2 linked regions of the Homo sapiens genome follow. The protein of the gene in region 1 interacts with the protein of each later gene in a biochemical or structural test. Each region holds a gene or a part of one and is shown on either strand. Other genes may lie near its edges.

Evidence for each region.
Region 2: the proteins of RNH1 (region 1) and ANG are reported together in a solved structure, tested with the Homo sapiens proteins (3 studies listed by BioGRID and IntAct, with this or other methods).

Annotation. Positions count from the first base shown.
Region 1 is NC_000011.10:504,226-512,194, reverse strand, and holds the start of RNH1 (ribonuclease inhibitor), read left to right. Parts: upstream 1-4,952; 5' UTR 4,953-5,082; exon of another isoform or gene 5,083-5,733; intron 5,734-7,193; exon of another isoform or gene 7,194-7,198; 5' UTR 7,199-7,371; intron 7,372-7,718; exon of another isoform or gene 7,719-7,768; intron 7,769-7,969. UniProt on the Homo sapiens protein: Ribonuclease inhibitor which inhibits RNASE1, RNASE2 and angiogenin (ANG). May play a role in redox homeostasis. Required to inhibit the cytotoxic tRNA ribonuclease activity of ANG in the cytoplasm in absence of stress.
Region 2 is NC_000014.9:20,684,660-20,691,766, reverse strand, and holds the start of ANG (angiogenin precursor), read right to left. Parts: upstream 3,004-7,107; 5' UTR 2,893-3,003; intron 1-2,892. UniProt on the Homo sapiens protein: Secreted ribonuclease that can either promote or restrict cell proliferation of target cells, depending on the context. Endocytosed in target cells via its receptor PLXNB2 and translocates to the cytoplasm or nucleus.

The sequences.
Region 1 (7,969 bases):
CAGGGCAGGCAGATAACGAGGTCAAGAGATTGAGACCAGCCTGTCCAACGTGGTGAAACACTGTCTCTACCAAAAATACAAAAATTAGCTGGGTGTGGTGGCACGCACCTGTAGTCCCAGCTACTCGGGAGGCTGAGGCGGAAGAATCACTTGAGGCCAGGAGGCGGAGGTTGCAGTGAGCCGAGATCACGCCACTGCACTCCTGACTGGGTGACAAAGTAAGACTCCATCTCAAAAAAAAAAAAATTCGCCTCCTAACCTCACTGAGTTAACTGATCAAGACCTCTCATGCTCTGCCGCTGCACAGCTGTCCCTCCAGCGCCTTGTCTGTGTGTGTGGGGGGTGGCTGGTGTTTTGAATATCTTCCGGTTCCCAGAGGCTAGCTCAGTGTCTGACAGGGCCCTGTGGGAGTGTCTAATTCTCACAGCATCTCCGTGCAGGAGGGAAGGAGAGGGTCACGCCTGGGCCCTGAGGCATCTTGTATCTGAGGCCCCCACATCAGCACGGATCTCCAGAGGCATATACTGTCCTGCCGACTGGTCTGCTTTCTGTCTGATTGAAATTGGAGGCTCAAAGCCAAGACCTTCTCACTTGCAGTGAAGAACCCTTATGGGGCAAAGTTTTCCCCTCAACCTGCTCTATCATGAGCTCCTCCTGCTAAGTGGCAGAGCTTAGCCCGTGAATCAGAGGATACGCTACATTTCAAACCTTAGGAGCAGTCCTGTCACCAAAATTCAGCTGGTCATTGTCAGTTTAACTACCCACTACGTAACCACTCACGTATGAACCTGCAACAGCCACCAATCAAGTTGAATTCTCAAATATTTGCTACTTCATCCTCAATGTTTTCCCATTTCTTTTTTTTTTTTTTTTTGAGACGGAGTCTAGCTCTGTCGCCCAGGCTGGAGTGCAGTGGCGCGATCTTGGCTCACTGCAAGCTCCGCCTCCCGGGTTCACGCCATTCTCCTGCCTCAGCCTCCCAAGTAGCTGGGACTACAGGCGCCCGCCACCACGCCCGGCTAATTTTTTGTATTTTTAGTAGAGACGCGGTTTTACCGTGTTAGCCAGGATGGTCTCGATCTCCTGACCTTGTGATCCGCCCGCCTCGGCCTCCCAAAGTGCTGGGATGACAGGTGTGAGCCACCGTGCCGGGCCAGTGTTTTCCCATTTCACGTGCTGCGTGTGAAAATCCACTGCGTGCGACACTTGCGCTATGTGCACTTTATGTACACATCTCATACTTTGTTAAAAAGGCACTTTCAGACAAACATATTATTTATTTATTTAGAGACATGGTTCACTCTGTCACCCAGGCTGGAGTGCAGTGGTGTGGTCTCTGCTCACCGCAACCTCCACCTTCTGGGTTCAAGTGATTCTCCTGCCTCAGCCTCCCAAGTAGCTGGGATTACAGGTGCAGGCCACCACGCCCAGCTCATTTTTTTGTATTTTTTTTTTGAGATGGAGTTTTGCTTTTTGTTGCCCAGGCTGGAGTGCAATGGCGTGATCTCGGCTCACCAGAACCTCTGCCTCCTGGGTTCAAGCGATTCTTATGCCTCAGTCTCCCGAGTAGCTGGGATTACAGGCATGTGCCACCATGCCTGGCTAATTTTTGTATTATTAGTAGAGACGGGGTTTCTCCATGTTGGTCAGGCTGGTCTTGAACTCCCGACCGCAAATGATCTGCCTGCCTTGGCCTCCCAACATGCTGGGATTACAGGTGTGAGCCACTGTGCCCAGCCATTTTTTTGTATTTTTAGTAGAGATGGGGTTTCACCATGTTGGCCAGGCTAGTCTTGAACTCCTGACCTCAAATGATCCGCCTGCCTCGGCCTCCCAACGTGCTGGGATTACAGGCGTGAGCCACCGTGCCTGACCTGAGTATATTTATAGAAGTAGAACAGGCACAGGACTCTCCACCCAAAGTCACCCTGGTGCCTCTCTCCCCGGGGTCTGACTTAGGCCTTCAGCACCACGGTGTTTTCTCTAGATGGCATCTCATGAACACTGGGGGTCTCTTGCCTCAGCCTGTCCCTGGATTCCCTTTCATGGGGAATGTAAAAGCTCCCTATTTAAGCTAACGTGTAGGCTGGTGGGGCTGGATGTGAGGGAGGGGCAGGTGGAGAAGGAAAGGGCAGCATCCCTCAGATCTGTGTGGAGCAGGATCGGAAGGAAAGGCACACTCGAGTCGGCCAGGACCCGGGGAAATGAGCGAGAATGGTCAGCTCTGGGGCGGTATATAAAACTGGGGGTGGGAATACTTCCATATACTCCCAATTCCACAGTGGGTGAACTGAGTAAGTTTAAAAATAAGATAAAGACATAACGAGGTGAGGCAGGTAAGTTCAAAAATAAAAATGAAGGCCAGGCACTTTGGGAGGTTGAGGCGGGCGAATCACAAGGTCAGGAGCTCGAGACCATCCTGGCTAACACGCTGAAACCCTGTCTCTATTAAAATTACAAAAAAAAAAAAAAAAAAAAAATTAGCCGGGCGTGGTGGCAGGTGCCTGTAGTCCCAGCTACTCGGGAGGCTGAGGCAGGAGAATGGCTTGAACCTGGGAGGCGGAGCTTACAGTGAGCCGAGATCGCGCCACTGCACTCCAGCCTGGGCGACAGAGCGAGACTCCATCTCAATAAAATAAAATAAAAATGAAGACATACCTTTCAGGGGCTGTGGCCGCACTGTCCAGGAGGGAGGCCCGGCCACAGACACCATGCTGGCCGTGCGCTCAGCACCTATACATACCTGGGCACCTTCCCCACAAGGTGTCACAAAAGGGAGCCCAACAGCCATTTTAAACATTTTCTTCACTCTTATGAGAATTGCCACGAACAAATCTAAGAGATCATGGCAAAGAAAAGAATGAAATGAAACCAGAACATTTCAGCAGCTTTTGCAAAGATGTCAAGAGAACCAGTCCAGGAGTCAGACTGGCGGCATCCTTCCAGCTTCTTGTCATGAATTCTAAACCTCACATCCAGACTCCAAAGCTTAGAGAGTTAAAGAATCAGCTACTGGTCACCAAGCTCACGTGTGCAGGATGAGGGTCACAGCCAGGTTGGCTGCCTTCCAGCCCTGAGCTTTCTTGGGGGTGTGTGTGTGTGTGTGTGAACCACCTTCTTTTTGAGACGGAGTTTCTTTTTTCTTTTTTGAGATGGAGTTTCGCTCTTGTTGCCCAGGCTGGAGTACAGTGGCACGATCTTGGCTCACTGCAACCTCTGCCTCCTGGGTTCAAGTGGTTCTCCTGCCTCAGCCTCCTGAGTAGCTGGGATTACAGGCATGCACCACCATGCCTGGCTAAGTTTTTGTAATTTTAGTAGAGATGGGGTTTCATCATCTTGGCCAGGCTGGTCTTGAACTCCTGACCTCAGGTGATCTGCCTGCCTTGGCCTCCCAAAGTGTTGGAATTACAGGTGTGAGCCACCGCGCCCAGCCAGAGTTTCATCTTGTTGCCCGAACTGGAGTGCAATGGTGTGGTCTAGGCTCGCTGCAACCTCTGCTTCCCGTGTTCAAGCGATTCTCCTGCCTCAGCCTCCCAAGTAGCTGGAATTACAGGTGCCCACCACCATGCCTGGCTAATTTTTGTATTTTTAGTAGAGATGGGGTTTCACCACGTTGGCCAGGCTGGTCTTGAACTCCTGACCTCAGGTGATCCACCCTTCTCGGTCTCCCAAAGTGTTGGGGTTACAGGTGTGAGCCACCACGCCCGGCCAGAACCACCTTCTTTAAAGATGATCAGGCCGGGTGTAGTGGCTTATGCCAGTAATTCCAGCGATATGGGAGGCTGAAGCAGGAGGATCACTTGAGCCCAATTCAAGACCAGGCTGGGCAACACAGGGAGACCTCTTCTCTACATAAAATACAACAATTAGCCAGGCGTGCTGGCGCCTGTGGTACCAGCTACTTGGGAGGCTGAGGCGGGAGGATCACTGGAGTCCGGGAGGTGGAGGCTGCAGCGAGCTGGGATCGCGCCACTGCAGTACAGCCTAAGCAGTGGAGTGAGACCCTGTCTCGAAAACAAATACCTAATAAAGGCAGTCAGAGGAGAGGTTTAGCAAATTGCTAAAGAACAAATCTGAGATACCGTTAGTTTCCTTACTTGCAATCTTCATCTGCCAAAATGTCAATTCTGTGAATTGCGGACTAGTCAAAAACTTAAAGAAAACCCACTTTTGTGGAGGTGGGGTCGCTTTGCGTTTCCCAGGCTGGTCTGGAACTCGGCCTGCGCCCCTCAGTGCCAGGGCTCCAGGCGACGCTCGGGTGTCGGCAGCAGAGTGGACGCAGGAGCAGCTCGGACCGCGCTCAGAACACTCGGGACGAGGCCGCGGCTCCGCAGGCCTTGCGGGCTGGGGTCCCACGAAACAAAGGCGGCAGCCAGTGGCCAGGACGGGCAGCGTGGTTCACGGGGCCGTGGCTCCCTCGGGGGTCGCGAGCTCGGCGCAAACGAGCCCCTCTACCAAGGTCGCCTAGAGTCGCGACCCCGACATGCGGAGCCGCCCCAGGGGGGTTTCTCCCGGGTCCCTCCTGTCCCGAGGCGGCCGCTTTCTCCGGGGGCCGCGCCCCGCGCCCCAGCAAGGCCCGACCCGCGCCTGCGATTCCGCCCCCAAGGCGCTGCCGCACCGGGCCCCGGCCTCTTCCTCCGAGGATTCTCAGGAATTGCTGAGACTTGCGTGCCAGTGCGAGGCCCACAACACGCACACGCGCCCGCGCCCGCCAGACCCCGCCCCCGGCACCAAGCCCCGCCTACTGGGGGAGACCACGCCCCCAAGCGAGACCTCCCTCACCGAGCCACGCCCCACCAGGCCCCGCCGCTGCGCCAAGACTGTGCTTAGCCGAGCCCCGCCCGCCGGGCCCCGCCCCGACCCCGAGACTACTCCCGCCAGGCCCCGCCCCCGCGCCGAGCCCCGCCCAGTAGTCCCCGCCCACGCACCTGACCACGCCCACGAGCCGGCTCGAACACGCCCGCGCCGCTGACTGGCGGGTGGGGTTGTCGACACGTTCAACCCGTTCTGCTGGCTCGAGAACGAAGTAGGCCGTCTCGCTCTGGGTCTCCAGGCCCGCGACCGTCCGCCAGTCGTCCCGAGGTCAGTAGCTCCAGCGGTGCGTCAGCGTCTAGCCAGGCCTCGCCCACGCCGGCCTTGGTCGGGCTTCTTGTAGACGCGGGCCTGGCGCTATTGAGGCCGTTGCTGCGCGGGCGAGTGGCGCGCTCCCGTGGCGGGGCGGGGTCGGGCGGGGCAGGGGTCCGGGGCTATCGAGGCGGGGCCGAGGTTGCGCTGGGCAGCTGCGCCGCCGGGCGGACGTGGCGCGCCTTGAGGACGTCATCGCGGTGCACGCTCCCCTTTGGGGCTTGCCGGAAGTCCTTGCCCGGGGCGCGGGGCTGCGCCTGCGTGGTTCGTCCTCACGTGGCCGTCAAGCCCTCTAGTGCCTTAGATTCCAGCGAGCTACGCAAGCAATCCTGGCCCAGCCGAGCTTGCTTCCCCAAATCCCGTAATCCTTGACCTTATTCCCCCAAAGAAGCGGCCTCCCGGGAAGGAGCGCCCTGGCGGAGAAGACTCGAACGGCTCCCACAGCCGGGCGTTGGGGGAAAGGTGGGCGGTCTTGGTCGTGCGAGGTCGGGGAGGGAGGGTCCTCCGCTCTCCATTGCGGAGCTTCGCTCCGGGACCACCGGGGGACCGGACGCCGGGCCGCGAAGCTGCCGCCTGGGGCTGCGGGGAGGAGAGCAACATAACTGGAATGGCACTTAGGGGCCGGTGTCAGGGTTGTCACCGGGGTTGGCGGAAATGACGAAGGGGCCCCAGGCACGTCGTGTTACTGGGCGAGGTTCCAGCCAAGGTGCCCACGCGCCTTGGGGGAAACCAGAGGACTTCTGCACCGTTTCCCGAGGACAGTTTGGCAGTGTTTCAGAAGGGCCTTAGAACCAGGCAGGCCCCCTTCTAGGATGGTGGAAAGCCTAAAGATCTGAAAACGGTCTCAAGTGTCGTCTTAGCGATTGGCTGACTAAACCGAATGCAAGCCGGAGACTGCACACGATGTTGCCGTTAACAGTTACACTGGGCCGGGCAGTCAGAGGCAGGCGGATCACCTGAGGTCAGGAGTTCGAGAACAGCCTGGCCAACATGGTGAAAACCCGTCTCTACTAAAAATACAAAATTAGCCGGGCGTGGTGGCAGGCGCCTATAATCCCAGCTACTTGGGAGGTTGAGGTAGGAGAATGGCTTGAACTCAGGAGGCGGAGGTTGCGGTGAGCCGAGATCGTGCCACTGCACTCCAGCCGGCTGACAAGAGCGAAACTCCTTCTCAAAAAAAAAAAAAAAAAAAAAAAGTTACATTAGGCTGGGTGCGCTGCAGCCTGTAATCCCAGCACTTTGGGAGGCCGAGGCGGGCGGATCTCTTGAGCCCAGGAGTTTGCGACCAACATACTGAGTTTGGCCAAAATAGTGAGACCCCCGTCTCTACAAAAGATAGAAAAAATTAGCCAGTTGCGGTAGTGAACGCTTGTAGTCCCAGCTACTTGGGACGCTGAGGGAGGAGGAGCACTTGAGCCCTGGAAGAGGAGGCTGCAGTGAGCTATTTTCTCATCCCTGCTATAACGAATTTGTCACAGGCTGTTTTATAGGCCTGGAGCTCAGAAGCCCGAAGTGAGTTTTAGGAGGTTAAAATCAAGGTGTTGGCAAGGGTAGTTCCTTCTGGAGTTTCCCAAGGAGAATCTGCTTCTTTTCCTCTTCCAACTTCTAGAGGCCACCTTCTTCCATCTTCAAAACCTACTGTCTCTGCATAAGAACTCTCATGATTATATGCCGGCCGCCCAGACACCCCAGGGTAGCCTTCACATCTCAATATTCTTAATATTTGCAAAGTCCCTTTTGCCACTTAAGGTAACACCACAGGTTTGGAGATTAGGAGGTGGACATCTTTCAGGGCCATTCTTATTTTAAAAAATGTACTGTCGATAAGAATAGTTAAAATGTAAAATATTTGAAGGGATTTATTCTGAATCGAATATGAGTGACCGCGGCCGGTGACACAGCCCTCAGGGGATCCTGGGAACATGTGCCCAAGGTGGTTGGGGCAGTTTGGTTTTACATGTTTTAGAGAGACATGAGGCATTAATGAAATACATTTAAGATATCCATTGGTTTGGTCCAGAAAGGCGGGACCAAACAAAAAAAAAAAGATTTTGAACATGCTTCCCGAGCTCAGGCATGAAGAACTCTTGACTGACAGAAACGGAGGGTGTGTCCAAAGTTTTGAGGACGGCCGAGCGGCGCTCCAAAACCCGTCCTCACAGCCTCGCCCCGTTCGCCTCAGCTACAACAAATCATCGTCAACCTGTTCCACCTTCTCCAGTCTGGTAGCAAAAAGGGGTGTCTCAGGTTTGCTTTATTTTATTGTTTGGGCAATTCCTGGAATCCGGCCTGCTTGTGGGAGGAGGCAGGGGCCGGTCCCTCGAGGGTGGTGGGAGCTGCCAGAGCTGGAGGGATGGTCTGGGGGAAGGCGGCTGTACGGTGGAAAGGCTGGTTGGGGCCAGAGTGGGAAACGGGATGCGGACGTCAGGCTTCACCCCCGACCCAGGGGGGAGTGGGAAAGCTGGGGTAGTAGCTGGGACGAGGCCCGGGGGCTGAGCCCAGAGGGTCGAGTGGGCGACGACTAGCGGGCGCGGCCCCCAGGGTGGACTCCCCGCCAGCCCCGGCCTGGAGGCTCCGCCCGCCCCCGCCTGGGCGGAAGGAACGCGGAGCGGCTCTGGCCTTGGGTCTGCGGCGGCGGCGTCGGGTGAGCGTCCCGGGCGGAGCGGGCGCGGGCGGGGGCAGAGAGGCAGGGGAGACCCCCTTCGTGTTTTTGTGAGGTTTCCTCCCAGCCCTTTAGTCTGCAGCAGGGTGTCCAGAACTAGCAGGTTCGAGGGACTCGACGCGGGCGCGGGCGGGGGTCCCAGGGACCGGGAACTTTTGCGCGTCGCCTGAGCGTGGCCCGTGT
Region 2 (7,107 bases), on another chromosome or scaffold:
TTAATGCAAACATTTCCAGCTGCTATTTACTCCATTATTGTGGAATGAAAAAATTCCTTAGCATATTATTTGGTATTCTTCAGCAGTGCATCAAATTTGTCCGCACCGACATTTGTCCATACTTGAGAGAGTTGCTATCTCTAAAAGTCTGAAATTCCATGCTGAAAGTGTGTTCTTGGGAGTTTATCAAGAAAGAGGTACATGATTGTAGAATGGAGAGCCAGCCCTAAAGGAGTAACAAGTATTCACTCATGCAGCTGCTCCAGTATAGCTGCTGGGCTGCCAAGCCACCCACTTGCCACGTTCTTCACATTTACATCATGCTTTTCAGTCTCCTGGGTGTGTTTCCTGTTTCTAGTTTTTTGGAAGATCTTATTAAAGTTTTATTGATTTGTAATCAATTAAGTCTCTTGCTCTGTAATGAACAAATACTGACTTCTAATGTCAAAGGTCTGCCTTACACAGTCAACATTCTTCTGCCTGGTGCCAGAATCCCAGAAATCAGAAATCAGGAAACGGAACCAGAGCTGCTAGTACCTAAAAGAGTCGTTAGGTGGCAGTGGTGGATAGGAATGTTACTAATGTCTTCTCTAGGAAATACCGTACTTGCAGGAGGTGCCAATGCTGTATAACTTGTGGGGATATTGCTGTTCACAGAAGGGAGTATGAGCTGGTGAACCTGTTTAGAATCTCTGTCCAAACTCGCTCTGCATTAGATATTAAGACCAAGGACACCTCATTAGATATAAGTGCCAAAGTAAAAGCCACAAAGTTCAGAATCTACCCATAAGGATATCACAAAATAAAGACCGACCTGTTGTCAGGTTTCACGGGTGCCATTTCCAAACATGCCATTACCCACGTGATCGTGGATGAACAATGAAGTATTTACTTGTTAGTGTTTCTTACTGGTGTATATTCCACAGAACTCATATTATTCACCTTGAATCAACATGCTTGCCTTATTATAACCCTTAATATTTTTTAAGTAATTGACTTCATTTTTCTCTCCAGGCCTAGGTTTGTTCATCAAGAAAATAAAAGAGTTGCTAGCTCTAAAAATCTGAAGTTTCATGGTTCTCATTAAACATAATAGAGGCTTTGCTAGTTTCAATAGCAAAGGTCCAGTGACCCTCAGTTACAGAGACAAATTTTGTATAAGTTTAGTTGGGGGCCTGTAATCTTGATTCCCTAAGACATCCAGGAACCAAATCTCAGCAAGCGTACACCAAAACCACCAATATCTAACATCTGCTCCCTCACTCAAAACTTTCTCAATATATTCAACTCTAAATTCCTCAAAAAGCAAGGTAAAATGGAATTGGGAGAAAACCAGTAAGAGACAGATCGTTTGTGGTGTAAAAGTGAATCTGCCTAAGCCAAGGGTGCAAAGCCTCACATCTGGTGGCAAAAGTCCTATAGATATATCCTTCTGTACCCAAACACGTAACTGTCTGTCAGCTTTTTGTCAGTGGAATTAGTCCCAGCTGTTCTCTGTCCTTTTTTTCTTTTCTTTTCTTTTTTTTTTTTTTTTTTTTTTTTTTTGAGACGGAGTCTCGCTCTGTCGCCCAGGCCGGACTGCGGACTGCAGTGGCGCAATCTCGGCTCACTGCAAGCTCCGCCTCCCGGGTTCACGCCATTCTCCTGCCTCAGCCTCCCGAGTAGCTGGGACTACAGGCGCCCGCCACCGCGCCCGGCTAATTTTTTGTATTTTTAGTAGAGACGGGGTTTCACCTTGTTAGCCAGGATGGTCTCGATCTCCTGACCTCATGATCCACCCGCCTCGGCCTCCCAAAGTGCTGGGATTACAGGCGTGAGCCACCGCGCCCGGCCTGTTTTTTTTTTTTTTTTGAGACAGAGTCTTGTTCTATCGCCCAGGCTAGATCGCAGTGGTGCTATCTTGGCTCACTGCAACCTCCACCTCCCAGGTTCAGGCAATTCTCCTGCCTCAGCCTCCCAAGTAGCTGGGATTACAGGCGGCCACCACCACGCTTGGCTAATTTTGTGTATTTGGTAGAGACGGGGTTTCGCCATGTCGGCCAGGCTGGTCTCGAACTCCTGACCTCAGTTGATCCGGCTACCTCGGCTTCCCAAAGTGCGGGGATTACAGGTGTGAGCCACCACACCTGGCCCCAACTGTTCTTTAGAGTAACTTTATCTTCTGTATCAAATGAATCTGTTAGTATTCACAAGAATTATTCTCTCCCTCTCCCCACAGGCAATGTTCAGTATTCAAAAGATTCATCAAATTTTACACACCAGGGAGTTAACTTGACAGTTTATGATGAGTAACTATAGTTATCATTTTCATCAATGTGGCTTCACACTTTTATACATCCTAGGGCAAAATCCCCCAAAGTAAGAGCCTAACACCCAAGGCATATTCATCCCTTTATTGCTTTTCCTTCCTTCTTCCCTTCAACCTGCCAGTGAGCCTTCTTTTGATCTTGGGATGTGTTCCACTTTGTTTGAAAGAGCATCCAAAACTTTTCTAAGAAGAGAAATTAGCAGGGAAGGTTAGAAGGAAACAATGCTAAAAACATACTGTTTCTTTCCTTGTTAAGCCACGTGTAATGCCTGTAACAGGGGTGGACGACGGGGGAGGACTCCCGATGGCCTTCAGCAAATGGCTCCCCCAGGCCTTTGGGGATTTTATCACAATTTAGAAATCCCTCCTAAACTTCCACTTCCTCCCAGTCTCACTAATTTCTCTTTATCCACACATAGGCCATCCCAAAAGAAACCTGTTTTCATTTTAAACTTTAGAATCTGATCCATTTTCTTTTTAATTCATGAGCTTGAGCCTGGAGGCTTTAAAGGGAGGAAAATGGTTTCATTAAAATGGATGGATGGCTAGAAATAATATATAAAACAAATTGAACAATAGTTTACCCAGGAGGAAGAATCTTACAAAAATCTGGCAGTTTCCCTTCAACGGGAGATGGGTTCCAGCTGTTTGTTCCTGGAGATGGGTTCCAGTTGTGTGAACCTGGAGGCCTCTCCAGGTTCTGATTATATAGTGTTCCTAATATATAGTGTCCCAGTCCTGGCAGGGACATGAAAACCAAGGACACTGCTCTTGAACAAACGAGGAGGGTCATTCACCTTTTCGCTGGGCATGATTGGGTTAGATATTAACCCACCTGAATGGATTAGAGATTTGTTCTGGAAGACAAAGTTTGAGAAACATGGCCTTCTGTCCAAAAGTTGCCCTTTTCTGCTGTCTGTGGTGCTTACTCTTGTTCATGGCAGGACTGAGGTTTCCCTATTCACACATAATAGTCTGGATCCATAAGATAGCATCTCTGATCTCCCTGGGCCAACTCCAAGAACTGCCTTGGAAGATGTCACAGAGTAAGATATGGTCTTCCAGTAGGATGCTTTTCCACTGTACTATTTATCATTTATCATATCACATCCTATTTATCGTATCACATCATTTGGTTTCATGAACGGATGCTAAGCACGTTATTCCATCGATTTCATACAGCCAGGAAAGCACTTCCAGAGAAGGTTGTGTGACAGCTATTAGTACACTGCCCCTCCCCCTACACTCAACTTCTCAGCTTCTAACCCCCAGAAGCAGGCTTGCCATGTTTCCTGGGTTTCTCCTTCTTCCATCTTTACCTGTCCACAAGAGACTAACCCTGAACATTCAATCTTCTGATCCTTGTAATGTAGTTGCAAAATTGCTTATCTCCATCATCAAAGCAGGGCTGTAGATCCATTGCTTGCGTAAAAACAGTGGGCCAAAGGTCACCAGGATCACCTTATAGATCTCATAGTTTCCAATATCAGACAGCAGCAGGGTACCAACTGTTTCACAGACCCCCAGCATTTGCCCACAGTGGTGTTGGATCTAGGACAGTGTTATCTTTTTAAAAATCCTCAATCCTCTGTTGTCACCCACCTAGCTGCCAAGTATTCAGTCTGGCTGCACTTGAGAAGGTGTCAAGAAAAGACAGGCTGCCTGCTAGTAAAACAAATGCACTTGAAATCACAATAATTATAATATTCAGTGCAATCTTTCATTTTGTGAAGCTCTCACATACATGACTACATTCAACCAACACCAGGACTGTGTGAGGTAGGCATTATGTAAATATGCTCTGCTCATGAGGAAACTCCAAGAACAAACAGCAGATGAATGGTGGAGTCAGACTTTGAACCCTTCATAAGCAAGGAGAAAACTGACCTGTCTTTCCAGGCTTAGCTCAAGCAACACCACCTCTGAGTCCCGAAAAGCGGTACCCTGCCACAGCATACAACCCATATGCGCCTGCACACACACAGCCCCATGGCCTGAAGCACCAATTCAAGCACCGACTCACACAAACAGAGCAGCCTCTGATTTTAGAGTTCTGCAGTAGTGCTGAGGTGGGGCAACCAGCAGCCTCTGAATATAGTTAGGTCCCTTCTCTGCCTCTGGGCCTTCACTGGACAACCTTTGGAGGATACACAATCTGCCCACAATGCAAAAAGACAGTTTTATGTTTTTCTTTTAAACTTGGCACAAGGAAGTTTTGTTGAAATGAAAAGTAGGGTTTGGGGGAAAAATTACTATTTCATTAGAATGCATCTAAGCACTTAGTCATTTGTGTTTAAAATACAACAAGGAATTATATTCTATGATTAAGGAACATCACATCTTTGTCAGTAATTTTAATACAAATGAAGGAATCGCCAATTGCAAAAAACCTCATATATTTTTTAAATGTTCAGACAGCTTTAACTTGAAAGTCATTCCCCTTTCCTGGAGATTTTTTTCTCTCTCTCCCTCAAGCCAATAATGTCCCTGCACACAGACACGGGATGCACGGGTCCTGTTTCCAAGGACCCTAGTGTTAGAGCACTTTCCTCCTTCATACAGAGTATATATGTATCATTCTGTCTTAGGACTAATTATAAAATTAGATGATGGGAAGAATGGACTAAATAATTTCTATATTTCTTTATTATTCTAACACTTTAGGTCTATAAGCATGAACTTATTCAATAACGGAAGTAACAGGTAAAGAAGGAAAAGCACACGTGGCAAGAAGAACCACGTCTCCAGGAAGAGGCAACACTACTGATTGAAGGACAGTGGGGACAAAGTCCTGCTGACATGCCTGTATTTCCAAACAAAGACAAAAATTAAACATTTGCTTTTCAACCAACTCTGGGCTTTGTGCCCACTCACTCTTTGTTCCCATTCCCTCTTTCCCAAGTATTTCATGGCATTCTTCCGGGAATAACTGTTTACAGAGAATTACAGAGAATCTGCTTAAATACAGATTCAATAAAAACTCCTAAAGAAAGGTTTCACTGACCTTCATTGGTCCACTTTTTTATCCAGCTACTTTAATTTGAGTCACAGTGACCAATGCTTCCAACAATAACTTGACAAACCTCTTACTCTTGCCTGCTTATAACCTGATTATCTGTTTTCAACAATAGCTAAAGCCATTCCTCTTTTCCTGGAATGATTTTTTCCATCCTCTCTGCCAAACGATAGTTCATCTCCACATTACTAGAGTGCCTCATGTCCTGTTACTAACATCGTACCACTCCATGGAGTCATAGAACAAGAGTGGGAGGGGCCTCTGAGACTCTGTCCACCCCTCATATTAAAGAAGAGCCAACTGAGGAACAGAGAAAGAGACATGTATTGCCCAAGGAACTCATTGCATTCGCCGGCCTGGAAGCTTTCCAATGCACCACACAATTTTTTTTTTTTTTTTTTTTAAGACGGAGTCTTGCTCTGTCACCCAGGCTAGAGTGCAGTGACGCAATCTCTGTTCACTGTAACCTCCGCCTCCCAGGTTCAAGAGAGTCTCCTGTCTCAGCCTCCCGAGTAGCTGGGGTTACAGGTGCTCACCACCGTGCCCGGCTAATTTTTGTATTTTTAGTAGAGACGAGGTTTCACCATCTTGGCCAGGCTGGTCTCGAACTCCTGATCTTGTGATGCACCCACCTCGGCCTCCCAAAGTGCTGGGATTACAGGCATGAGCCACCGTGCCGGGCCCACACAACTTTTATATTCCATACTAGTACTTTCTAGACAATCAGAGCTAACTTTAAAGGGGCCACTGAAAGTTGCTGTTCGAAGGAAACCTACATTGACTATTACCATAAATTCAAAAATTATTTTACTCTGCTTGTCATCAGTAAAAGAATTGCTTGAATTGAAGCGTATGTAATAAACCTATCCTCTTGCAAAACTTGTTAGTGGCTCTGTGGTTAAGTAAGTCTTGAATACCTGAGGCTGCTTCTGGGAAGGTGGTCCTGTGCCACAGATAATGATGTCCCTTGGGTTTCTACTGATTACATTATGACTTGATTATAAGATTTTTACTGTCACGAGGGAGGGTCTTGGCTCATCTGAGATTTCCCTAGCCCCCTGAGTGGTGCTGAAATTGTTTTAATAAAGATGTTGCGCTTTACTCATGTGCTGCTATTAGCATTTGACGTGCTGTCTCAGAGCGAGAAAACGGAGGATCCCAACCTTCCAGTAGGAAGGCTTAGAGAAGAGGCTGTTGGCAAGTGTCTCTAAGAATTGCACAACACTGGCTGAGGGTGGGTTAAGGGTGAGGAGGCAGAGGAGAGTAAACAGAAAACACCGATCCCCAAATGTTAGTTACGCTTGCAAAAAACTAAGGCCTGCTTCAAAAAGCTGGTGATTAGCCTGAATAACTAGCAAAGCTTTCTTAGTTGTGGGCAAGTGCAGGCCTCCTAGGGCTTCCCTTAGGTTCGGCGATTCTGTGGTCCCCCTCCAAGCCTACTAATCAATAGAAGCTGGCATCTGTGCCCAGCTGCGCAAAGTAAACCTGAGTGGGAATGTAAAGTCGTTAACTCATACAAATACGGGACTTTCACGTCCCTCCCCATTCCTCCCTCTCCAGCCCCGTCCCGCAAACTCCTCCCCAAGGAGTCCCAAGCTGCCTCTACTAGGAAAGGACTCCCCGGCCTAAACGCCCCTTATGAAGCTACCAGAGAGGAGGAGGAGGAGCAGGAGTGTGAACCTACCTCGGCCTCAGAACAAGTCCGCAGAAACGGGCAGGACAATGGAAAGAAGTTTTGTTTCTCACCCGCTTCTTCCTCCCTAGTACGATGATGGGGAGCCGG